2 separate regions of the Homo sapiens genome follow, and region 2 is linked to region 1. The links come from fine-mapping of genetic effects on gene expression. Tissue or cell type: whole blood. Region 1 holds a variant in brackets; the other region holds the start of a gene. All regions are shown on one strand. Distances are from middle to middle.

Region 1 (8,187 bases):
AGTGTCGATACCAGTAGATGGTCATAGATTATGTTATGTATGATGTAATATAGAAAGCAGCCACTAAAAAACCTACACAAAGAGATACACTTAAAAAAAACACTTCACCATAGATAAAAAAAATGGAATTCTAAAAACTGTTTAACCCATAGGAAGAGTAGAGAAATAAAAGAGAAGAATGAAAAGCAGAGGGAATGAAAAGAAAACAATCAAATGGCAGGCTTAAACCCTAACAAATAATTGCATTAACTGCCGGTAGTCTATAAATATACTTTATAACTCTGAGACTGGCAAAACGGAGTGAAAAAAATGACCCAAAATAAGCTCTCTACAAGAAACTCACTTCAAATATGACATAGGTAGACTGAACATAAAAGGATGAAAAAAGATACACCATACAAAGATTAATTAAAAGAAAGCAGAGTTAGCAATTTCAATATCAGATGAAATAGACTGCTGAGCAAAGAAAATCACCAGGGCCAAAAAAAGATATTAAATGGGTCAAATCACAAAGAAGACATAGCAATCATACATGTGTACATACCAAACAACAGATCTTAAAAATCTATGAAACAAAAATTGGTAGAACTGAAAAAAAAAATAGACATCTACTATTAAAGTTGGAGACTTCAACACATCTCTCTCAACACTTGATAGAAATACTAGACAGAAGGGTGGGCATGGTGGCTCACACCTGTAATCCCAACATTTTGGGAGGCCAAGGCGGGTGGATCACCTAAGGTCAGGAGTTCAAGACCAGCCTGGCCAACATGGTGAAACCCTGTCTCTACTAAATATAAAAATTAGCCGGGTGTGGTGGCGGGCGCCTGTAATCCCAGCTACTCGGGAGGCTAAGGCAGGAGAATTGCTTGAACCCGGGAGGCGGAGGCTGCAGTGAGCCGAGATTGTGCCACTGCACTCCACCCTGGACGACAGAGCAAGACTCTGTCTCAAAAAAAAAAAAAAAGAAACACTAGACAGGAAAGCAGCAAGGATGTATAAGAACTTTAAAAAGCCATCAATCAAAAGAATCTAATTAATATTTAGACAATACTTCACATAACAATAACAAGATTCACATTCTTTTGAAATGCTTATGGAACACTCACCAAGACTATATCTTAAGTCACAGAATAAAAGTCAACTAAAAAAAATTTTTTTAAAGAGACAGCATCTTGCTCTATTGCCCAGGCCGGAGTGCAGTGGTGCCGATCATGGCTTACTGCAGCCTTCAACTCCTATCCTCAAGTGATCCTCCTACCGTGGCATCCAAGAGACTTGGGATTACAGGCATGAACCACTGCTCCCGGCCTCAAGGAATTTTTGAAAATCAAAATCGCACAGCATGTGTTCTGAGATCACAATGAAATCAAACTAGAAATCAATAACAAAAAGATAATAGGTAAATCTCCAAACATATGGAAATTAAACACCTCATTTCTGAATAATACATGAGTCAAGAGGCGCAGTTGTGCACTGGGTCACCAAGATGACTCTCCCAAACTATACTCCATCACACCTGGCCCCTCTGCCCATGACCCTCAATCCAGCTGAATATGACATACCTCCACAAACTGCAACCTGAGCATTTGGCCATAAATCTGGGTTTAAACAGGGGTACTTAATCAGCACAATGACCCTAACCAATGATGATTCATCGAGGGCTCATCAAACATCTTGGCTTAATTTGTTGGACTTGTGTAAGATCAGCACATGTCTATCCCAATTTCAGACCCATTATCAAATACTCATCCAGTAGCTCTATGTGGAATCGGATCCGGTAGGGATAGGAAAGAAAAGCTTATCCAGGAAGAAAAATTGGATCAAACATTTAACATCTCATATTAAGTCTAGCAATGACGATTTTATGTATTCCTGCTTAAATACACTTCTATTAATCCAAAAATCCCACCACATTTCTAAATAATACATGTGGGCTGGACGCAGTGGCTCACACCTGTAATCTCAATACTTTAGGAGGCCAAGGTGGGTGGATCACCTGAGGTCAGGTGTTCGAGACCAGCGTGGCCAAAATGGTGAAACCCCGCCTCTACTAAAAGTACAAAATTAGACGGGTGTGGTAGCATGTGCCTGTAATCCTAGCTACTCGGGAGGCTGAGGCAGGAGAATCACTTGAACTCAGGAGGCGGAGGTTGCAGTGATCCAAGATCACGCCACTGCACTCCAGCCTGGGCAACAGAATGAGACTCCATCTCAAAAACAAACAAACAAACAAACAAATTTCTAATATTGGTAATTTGTATCTTTCTTTTTCTAAAAAAAATTGGTTAACCTGGCTAGAGATCTGTTAATTTTATTGATAATTCAAAGAGACAGCTTTTGGTTTCACTGATTTTCTCTATCATCTTCTGGTTTTCAATTTCATTGATTTCTGCTTTGATTTTTATTATTTCCTTCTACTTACTTTAAGCTTAAATTGCTCTTATTTCTCTAGTTTCTTCTTTCTGAAGCTTAGATTGACTTTAGATCTTTCTTCTTCTCTAATATATGCATTTAATGCTATAAATTTTCCTCTAAGCATGGCTTTTGCTGCATCCCACAAATTTGGTAAACTATATTTTTCATTTTAATTTAGTTAAAAATATTTTTAAGTTTCTCTTGAGACTTTTTTTTGATCCATGTGCTACCTACTAGTCTAGTGTGTTGTTTATTCTAGAAATACCTTGGGGACTTTCCAGCTCTCTCTGTTATGGGTTTCTAGTTTAATTCCATTGTGGTTTGAGAACATACTTTTTATGAGTCTATCATTTTACATTTGTTCCAGTGTGTTTCGTGGCCCAGAATGTACTATCTCTTGAATACTCCATGTGAGCTAGATATGAATGTGTATTCTATTATTATTGTATTAGAATGTATATTCTATTATTGTTGGATGGAGTGCTCTATAAATGCCAGTAGATCAAGTTGATTGATGGTGGTATTCAGATAAAATATGTACTTACTGATTTTCTGCCTACTTGATTTATCAATTATTGAAAGAGGGTCGTTGAAGTCTTCAACTATAATGGGATTTGTCTATTTCTCCTTGGAGTTCTACCAGTTTTTGCCTCATATATTTTGGTATTCCATTGTTAGTGACATATACTATATGTGTCATATATCCACTCAAGATCAAAAATAAGGCAAGAATGTCTGTTCCCACCACTTTCATTCAATGTAGTGCTGGAAGTCTTAGCTAGTACAATAAGGGAAGAAAAGGAAATAAAAGACATACAAATTTAGAAAGAAAATACTTGCAAATCACACATCTTACACAGGACTCATATCTAGAATATATAAAGAACTTTCAAAACTCAAAAGTAAAAATACAGACAAACAGGTTGGGCACAGTGGCTCACACCTGTGCCCAGTGCTTTGGAAGCCGAGGTGGGAAGATGGCTTGAGGCCAGGAGAATTCAAAAGCAGCCTGGGCAACACAGCAAGACCCTGTCTTGAAAGAAAAAAAATTAGCTGGGCATGGTGGCAAGCGCCGGTAGTCCTAGCTACTTGGTAGGATCACTTGGGTCCAGGATTTCAAGGCTGCAGTGAGCTATGATCATGCCACTGCACTCTAACCTGGGTGACAGAGCAAGACTCTTTTTCTAGAACAAACATCCAAACAGTCTAATTAGAAAATGGGCAAAGGAAGTGAACAGATATTTCACCAAAGAGGATACAGAGATGGCAGATAAGCATATTAAAATGTTTGTTCATTTGTTTGTTTGTTTTTGAGACAGAGTCTTGCTCTGTTGCCCAGGCTAGAGTGCAGAGGCATGATCTTGGCTCCCTGCAACCTCCACCTCCTGGGTTCAAGCAATTCTCCTCCCTCAGCCTCCCAAGTAGCTGGGATTACAGGTGCATGCCACCACACCCG[G/A]CTAATTTTTGTATTTTTAGTAGAGAGGGGGTTTCACCATGTTGGCCAGGCTGGTCTCGAACTCCTGACTTCAAGTGATCCACCCGCCTCAGCCTCCCAAAGTGCTGGGATTATAGGCATGAACCACTGCACCCGGCCTAAAATGTATTAAACTTCAATAGCCATTAGGGAAATGTAAATTAAAACTATGGTAAGATATCATTACACACCTATTAAAACAGCTAAAATAAAATAGTGACCATTCTAAAAGCAAGTCAAAATGCAGAGAAGGTCTATCAATGTATGAACATTGCTGATGTTCTGGAAAATTGTTTGGCAGCATTCATACTCCTTGAAGGTTATTCCAGAGAAATGAAAATTATGTGTGGAGACAAAAACCTGCATAATAGCCCTAAATTGGAAACAAACATTCTTCAATGGGTGAATGGCCAAACTGTGTTATATGTAATAGCACTCAGCAAAAAAAGGGAAAAACTACTGATACAACTTAAGTGGATATAAAGGGCATTATATGGAAAAGCCAGTACAAAAGCCAATCTTGAAAGGTTACATACTATATCATTCCATGTATATAATATTTTCAAAATGACAAAATTATAGAGATGAAGTGGGACTTTTAGGGATTGGGGTGAGAGGAAGGAGGGGTGACTGTAGCTATGAATAGCATGAGGAAGCCTTGGGATAACAGAACAGTTCTATACTTGATTGTGATGGTGGTTACCTGAATTTATACATGGTTCTGATATTATACCAAAGGTATGTAAGATTTTCCCACCCATTGGAGGAAAATGAGCAAAGGGTACACAAAACCTCTATGTATATTTTTTGAAACTTTCTGTGATTTTTAAAGTACTATTGATACATGCAATAACTTGGATCTCAAGAGCATTATGCTGAGTGAAAAAAGCCAACTTCAAAAGGTCACACACTGTATGATTCCACTCATACAACATTTTTAATACCTTCACTTGCTTTTATTCATATACTATTCTTGAAATGACAACAATTATAGAGTAGATAATAAATTAGTGGTTTCAGGCTGGGCACGGTGGCTCACACCTGTAATCCCAGCACTTTGGGAGGCTGAGGCGGGTGGATCACCTGAGGTTGGGAGATCAAGACCATCCTGGCTAACATGGTGAAACCCCACCTCCACTAAAAATACAAAAGATTAGCCAGGCATGGTGGCACACGCCTGTAGTCCCCACTACTCAGGGGGCTGAGGCAGGAGAATCACTTGAACCTGGGAGGCGGAGGTTGCAGTGAACCGAGATTGTGCCACTGCACTCCAGCCTGGGCAACAGAGAGAGACTCCATCTCAAAAACAAAAACAAAAACAAAAAAACAAAAAACAAATTAGTGGTTTCCAGGGATTAGGTACTGAATGGAGGAGGGAGGTATAGATGGCACAAGAGAGATCCTTATGGTGATGAAACACACAAATGAGTGCATGTAAAACTGGTACAATCTGAACACGGTTTGTATATTGTACTACTGCCCATTTTATGCTTTTGATATTGTACTAGCTTTGTCCAGTGTTACCTCTGGAGGAAACTGGGAGAAAGGTACACAGGACCTTTCTATTTTTGCAACATCTTTGACTCTATAATCATTTCAAATTTTTAAAAAATCTTAAAAAGTAAAAAGAGGCCTTTGCATCCCAAAATTCTACAGGCAGGAAGCAGATTGAGAAAAAAACTCAACTGCAAATGCACAGAAAAAGGAAGGAATGACTCAGAACAATGAATCCAAAGGTGAATCAAAATCCTAGTAGGATTTTATGTAGAAATCAGTAAGTTGATTTTAAAATTCAAAGGAGAGAGGTAGTCTTTTCAAAAAAATCATGTTGGGGCTGGGCATGGTGGCTCACACGATGGGAGGCTGAGGCAGGCAGATCACTTGAGGTCAGGAGTTCGAGACCAGCCGGGTAACATGGTGAAGCTCTGTCTCTACTAAAAATATAAAAATTAGCCAGCTGTGTTGGCACACATCTGTAATCCCAGCTACTTGGGAGGCTGAGGCAGGAGAATTACTTGAACCCAGGAGGCGGAGGATGCAGTGAGCTAAGAGTGCAACACTGCACTCTACCCTGGGCAACAGAGAGAGACTCTGTCTCTGAACAAAACAAAACAAAATCCTGTTGGAATAATTGGATATCTATAAGCAAAAGAAGAACCTTAATCCACACCTTAGACTATATACAAGTTAACTAAAAAATAGATCAAATATCTAAATTTAAAAAACTAAAACTATAAAATGTTTAAAAGAAAATATAGGCATAAGCCTCTGTGACTTCAGGTTAGGCAAATATTTCTTAGATATGACACCAAAAGCATAGCCCATTTAAAAAAAGTGATAGTGGCCAGGTGTGGTGGCTCATGCCTGTAATCCCAGCACTTTGGGAGGCCAAGGCAGGTGGATCACGAGGTCAGGAAATCGAGACCATCCTGGCTAACATGGTGAAACCCCGTCTCTACTAAAAATACAAAAAATTAGCTGGGTGTGGTGGTGGGCGCCTGTAATCCCAGCTACTCAGGAGGCTGAGGCAGGAGAATGGCATGAACCCAGGAGATGGAGCTGGCAGTGAGCCAAGAGAGCGCCACTGCACTCCAGCCTGGGTGACAGAGCAAGACTCCATCTCAAAAAAAAAAAAAAAAAAGTGATTAAAGTGATTGGACTTCATCAAAATTAAGAATCTGTTCTTAAATAGATAGTTAAGAAAACGAAAAGATAAACCACAGGCTAGTGGAAAATACTGGCAAGTCATATATCTGATAAAGAGATCCTGAATTAGTGAAGAACACTCAACACAATTATATTTAAAAGAAACAACCTAAAAATGGGCAAAAGACTTGAACAAAAACTTCATCAAAAAAGACAGATGGCAAATAAATACATGAAAATATGTTCAACATTATTCGTCATTAGGGAAATGCAAACTAACACTACTATAAGATATGATGACATACCTACTAGAGTGGCTAAAAACAAAACAAACAAATAAAAATCTAACAGTACCAAATACTGCCAAGAATGTGAGTCAGCTAGACCTTGAATATATTGCTGGTGGAAATATAAAATGGTACAGCCACTTTGGAAAATTCTGGCAGTATCTTTTAAAGTTAAACATATAATTACCATATGATCCAGTAATCCCACTCCTAAGTATGTATCCAAGTGAAATAAAAACTTGTATTCCCACAAAAACCTGTACACAAATGTATTTAGTAACTTTATTCATAATCACTGAAAACCAGAAACTAGCCCAGATGTCCTTTAATGATTACACATACAAACTGTGGCATATTTATAGAATGAAATACTACCTAACAATGAAAAAAACCCAAATTATTGACATACCCAACATGTGCAAATCTTAAGTGAAAGAAATACAGATTCAAAGGGCTGCATACCGTATGATTCCACCTATATGGTGTTTTGGAAAAGGCAAAGCTATAAAGACTGAAAACACACATCAGTTTGTTGCCAGGGCTGGGAGTGGGAAGAGGAGTTAACTACAAAGAGGTGGCTTGAGGGAACTTAGGGGGGTTATGAAGCCATTCCATATATTGACTGTGGTATTCTACACTAGTATGCATTTGTCAAAACTTAAAGAACTGTATACTAAAAAAGGTAAATTTTACTGTATATAAAATATATCCCAGTAAACCTAACTAAAGAAATTAAAGAACAAAGTATGAGAGGAAATAAAACAAAAGAGTGGAACTCCCACCCATTAAGATGGCTACTATCAAAGAAACAGAAAATACCAAGTGTTGGCAAGGATATAGGGAAACTGGAATCCTTGTACATGGTTGGTGGGGATGTAAAATGGTATAGCCACTGCGAAAAACAATATGGTGGTTCCTCAAAACATTAAAAAGGGAATTACCATATGATTCGGCAGTTCCACAATTCCACTTCTAGGTATATACACAAAAGCTGAAAGCAAGGCCTTGAAGAGATGTTTGTATATCTTTGTTCACAGCAGCATTATTCACAATAGCTAACAGGCAGAAGAAACTCAAATGTCCATCGATGAATGAACAGAGAAATAAAATGTGGCCTATACATACAATGGAATATTATTCAGCCTTAAAAAGAAATTCTTTTTTTTTTTTTCTGAGACAGAGTGCTGTTCTTTTGCCCAGGCTGGGGTGAAGTAGCACAATCTTGGCTCACTGCAACCTCCACCCTCCAAGTTCAAGTGATTCTCCTGCCTCAGCCTCCCAAGTAGCTGGGATTATAGGTGCCCGTCACCATGCCTGGCTATTTTTGGTACTTTTAGTAGAGATGGGGCTTCACCGTGTTGG
Region 2 (4,800 bases), 30 kb before region 1:
CCTTCCTTGCAAGCCTTTGCTAACTTCTTTCTGCCTACCTTCATGATCCGGCTCCAGTGCTTACCTCCCCTCCACGAAGCCTTTCCTGCCCTCCTTAAGCACAGTCTCCTCTGTGCAGTCACGGTTCTGACCATCCAAGCATCTTACTAGGTCCCTCCTGGGAGATGGCTAGGTGGCAGCAGCATCGTGTCCTGACCACCTTTTCTCCCTAACTAGGCTGTAAGCAACTTGAGGACAAGGACCAGTCTGGGTCATCTATGTACTTCCCCTGACACCATGGAAAGCGCCTCATGTATCAGAGCTGAAATGAGCTCACTGATCTTCCTTGAATGTGCTGGGCTGGGCAAAACAATGCATACTACCCTGTGTATACTCTGGGAATAAAGGTAAGTCCTGATTCTACTATCATGGTGAGAAGTCTTATATCCAAAAAAGCTCACTGAACATGGGAAAAACAACTGTTCTAGGATTTCATAAAAACATCAAATTAAATTAATGTTCTTTTCTTGGAGAAATATCAAAAGAGATTTGCTCTCAGTAATAGAGAAAGCATAAAACTTAATAAGCACTAGAAAGAATTCTAAGCATTTGCTCCACATTTCAGGCAATTACGGGCTGAGGGAAGACAGTGACAGCAGAGTAGACAGGAAAGGGTAGGGGAGCCAGAGTTGAGGCAAGAGAGAAAGTCTTGGCAAGCTGGGGAGTTACTGCTTATTCCTTATTCCTTAGTGTTGTCCAGGAGCTTTTGATAATTCTATGTTCAGAGCTTTTCAACTGCTCCAATCCTTAAGCCTCAAATAAAAATGGCAAACTTGAAGCCGGAAAGCTCTACTCAAACCATAAACATGCTTCATTTGGTATGCACAACATTGACCCGCACAGCACTCAAAAAATTTTTAAATTACTTGCTGATATTTGAATTTGCCAATTTTCACATTAAATTCCAGATTTCTGGTATCTCTTGAAAAATGAGGCCAGGTGTGGTGGCTCTTGCCTGTAATCCCAACACTTTGGGAGGCTGAGGCAGGAGGATCGCTTGAACCCAGGAGTTCGAGACCAGCCTGGGCAATATAGTGAGACCTTGTTTCTACAAAAAATTTTTAGAAACATTTGACTCTGACCACATTAGGCCTCTATTCCCACATGGCAACAATCCATAGAAGCTGAGTGGCAGAGCTGTCCTCGTTAGAATGTCACACAAACTCTCTAGCCTGCCACAATTCCTGCTGCTCCTTTTTATTGCCCTAAAACTTGTTATATCATACTTGCACTATTGATTTCTTATAGTGGGATTAAGAGGAAAATGAGATATATTTCTCATTCCTGTGTTTGTCAATTTTAAAAATACCTTTATTCATTCCTTACCTGTGTGGCCCATGTAGACCTGTTTGCAACCACTGCACAGAAAGGTTCTATTCTAAACAGGATAGCCACAGCAGCCACTGGGAAATAGCGGTTTGTAGTAGGCACAGTAACTAGACCTGCCCCCTCCCAAACAAAAGCAGTTCCTCTAACACTGTGATGTAGCATCCTGTTGGCCAGTTGTAACCCACAGATATGTTATGGTTGGCTTTCGTGGTATTTATTATCATTTAAAAAATATTAATGAATGCCTTTTAAAAGGTTATCCAGTTGCCAGTTTTCTACTGCCTTACCTCCAAATAAGCATTAATTGTTTGCTATTTGCCTCTCCAGGGATATGCATGTGCTACCTCAGGTCTGAAAGTTTTAGGATTGGGAAGTTTATTCATCTGTGGTAACATTTCTTACTTCCAATGCCAGCTCTACCCCCATGGAATCGCTGCCTACTGGAAGTGCTGTCCCCAAGAGCAGTGGCAGGATGACAACACTCTCCCAGCCACATTCCCTCCATGGCCTGCAACAGGGCCCAAGGTGTGCACTCACTCAGTGACAGTGTCTTGGAACCAGACCCACAGCTCTGCACCTGATGGGGCCTGCAGGAAGGGTGGCCCCCAGTATCGGGTCCTCCAAAAGCCTTGTGTGAATGACAGGTGCAGCTCCCGTAGAGAATACTTGGAGATCAGCTGCCCCAGGGCTTTGGGAAAGAGCCTGTAATGGGACACTGGGGAAACGGGAGCAGGTGAGTGACGATCCCCACCTCGTCGGGGTCCACACCCAGGATCCCGAACTCTACCCAGGAATTAGGCCCCGCCCCCAAAGTTTGCCTTCATCCCACGGCCGGCCAGCCAGCAGGCACTACGGAAATCTTTCCCTGGTCAGATCTCGCGCCCTCACCTCCTTCCCGCTGAAGCTCCGAATCCCAGCGCGTGCGGAACTGGAATGTGGCGGCTACGTCCCCGGAAGGCAGCGGGGTGATGACAAGTTCCTCCCGCAGGCTGTCGCGTGGGGGTTCTGCAAGGCACCAGCCGCCGGGCCCCAGGAGCAACAGGACGAGCAGAGCAAGCGGCATAGCCGCCGCCATGCCTGCGGCTACTTCCGCCTACCCAGCGGCGCTCGGCCCCATGAAAAGCCGGTATCCAATAAGAAAGGCGTGTGAGAAGTGACTTCCGCTGTCGTCCCGGAAACCGGGATGCGGTTATCAGAGCGACCGCCTGCGCAGGTCGCGAAGATTCCCTCAGAGCTGGTGGGTCTAAGGGGGTACTGGGAGGACACGAGAGGGAGTAGGCAGGGCGAGTAACCAGCTTGAGGCCGCACCTAGTTCATGGCGTATTCCACCCACCAGGAAATGCTTAATAATATGAAGCTCCTTCACTGCCATTTTACCCATTTGATAGTTGAGGAAACATTGACTGAAAAAGATCAATTACTTTTGGGAAAACCATTGTGGTTTTAATTTGCATTTCCCAAAGTAAGAGGAACCTCCTGCCCCTCTTAGCTTCTAGTGTCTCCATTTGCTGCAAAACCCCCAAATAAGTGGTTCTTTTATTACGAAAATGTTCAAACAAAATTGAAAGAATGAGCACCTGTTACAATAAACCTATTTTCCACCACCTAGATTCTACTATTTACATTATACTATACTTGTACTTTACCACATATTTGTCTATACATCCATCATTCCATCTTGTGTTTTGGTGCACTTCAAAGTAAATTGCAGACATTAGTACACTTTCCTTTAAGTAGTTAAGCATGCATATAATTAACTAGAGTTCAGTATTCGATTGCATTTTGATGTAAAATTCACATACAGTGAAATGCACAAATCCAAAGTACACATTCACTGAGTTTTGACAAATGCACACACCTATGTAACCCGAACTCCTATCATGATACAGAACATTCCTAAAACCCCAGAAAATTAGCAATACCCTTTCCTAGTCAATCCCTGCTCCTCTATCACCTTCCAGAGGCAGTTAGTACCCTGATTTTTTCCCACAATAGATTAATCTGTTCCAGAACTAAATATAAATGAAATCATATAGTATGTATACTGTGTAAGGCTTTTTTTTTTCTCATGGGAAGAATGTTTTTGAGAATCATCCATGTTCTTGCATGTATCCACAATTCTTTTTATTACTGCGTAGTATTATTAATTTATCCATTCAACTCTTGATGGGCACTTTTAAAGTTTTTGGTTATTATTAACAAGGCTGCTGTCTGTGCAAGCTCCTTTGTAGACGTATATTTCTCATATCCTTTGGCCAGGTATTTAAGAGTGGAATTGCTGGGTCAGAGAGCAGGTGTATGTTTAATTTTATAAGAAACTGTCAGACCTTTCTCCAAAATGTATCATTTTATGTTTCCATAAACTATGAGTCTCCATTGTACCACATCCTGGTCAGCATTTGAAGTTTCTAATTTTTTGTACTTTTTAGTTTTGACCACTTGGGTATGTATGTAGTGTTTGCTCATTGTGGTTTTAATTTGCATTTCCCTGGTAACTAAAAATGTTAAGCATCTGTTCATGTGCTTATTTGCCATTTATTTTTTAATTTAATTTTTATTTTTTTGTGAAAGGTCTGTTAAAGTCTTCTGCACCCTCACCCCTTTGTTTACTGGCTTGTCTTTTTATTGACTTTTTCGGAGTTCCAAAGTTAAAGTCATGCTTTAGTTTTTCCACCTGCCCTATGGGAAACACATTCATGAAGGATTTCATGAACAGTCTCTTGGTGACACTCATGACCACACTTCTAGAAAGAGCCAATTTGGTGTCAGGCAGGTCTGCCAAGATATGCGCCAACCAACCAGACATTTCCAGAAAGGAAATGTCAGAAAGATGTCTTTATCTCATTATGCCTTCATTCTGCCTGCATTCAGTGTTCCTGCCCCATTAGACACGAAATATTAGGAAGGCCATGGGCTTAGATGTCAGAAAGACAGGAGTCCAAATCCCTATGCCAGCCTTTAATCCATATGAGCATGATCAACCCAAGTGTCACTTTTCTTCATTTGTATAATGAAGAAACCTACTTTCAAGGTTGTTGTTAAGATGAGAAATTATGTACATGTAGGATATGGAATGTAGCAAGTGCTTAATAGTAACACTCAACCCTGTCACCTAGGCACTAATATGTAAATGTAGATAATAGTGCCTAAGTGATAGGGTTGCTTGAGTGTTATTATTAAGAAGTACATAAACTAAGATAATAAAGATTACAATGAGTGATGGAGCTAGGACTATAGTCTACACTATCAAACCTCAAAATAATACTTTTTTAAAGGTAGCTGCCATCATTATGACTATTTTGTACTTCTCTGTTTTCCTTTTGAAATTGCCCATCTCCATCATTCAGGACCCAGCCACCTCTAGTGAAGACTTACCTTCTCCTCCTCTAGTGGTCTACAGGCTTCATGTACTTCTGCTACATCTCTCATCAC

The links. PIP is the estimated chance that this variant, and not a neighbour inherited with it, causes the effect.
Region 2: PIGT starts here. The variant in region 1 is fine-mapped to the expression of PIGT in whole blood (INTERVAL, PIP above 0.99). The same link has a PIP of 0.9 or more in rectum.

The regions. Positions count from the first base shown.
Region 1 is chr20:45,382,008-45,390,194 of GRCh38, reverse strand. The region is part of intron 3 of SYS1-DBNDD2 (SYS1-DBNDD2 readthrough (NMD candidate)); the gene reads right to left. It also overlaps the pseudogene NDUFB4P10. Among named protein-coding and RNA genes, the nearest start is that of TP53TG5, 7.8 kb to the right of the region's middle. The variant G/A (reference allele first, on the strand shown) is at 3,875.
Region 2 is chr20:45,413,800-45,418,599 of GRCh38, reverse strand. It overlaps PIGT (phosphatidylinositol glycan anchor biosynthesis class T), which reads right to left and starts at 2,459. Exons shown (of 12, transcript NM_015937.6): 1 at 2,257-2,459; 2 at 1,906-2,083. The coding sequence starts at 2,443. It overlaps LOC107985405 (a long non-coding RNA gene), which reads left to right and starts at 217. Exons shown (of 2, transcript XR_001754640.2): 1 at 217-386; 2 at 1,783-4,800.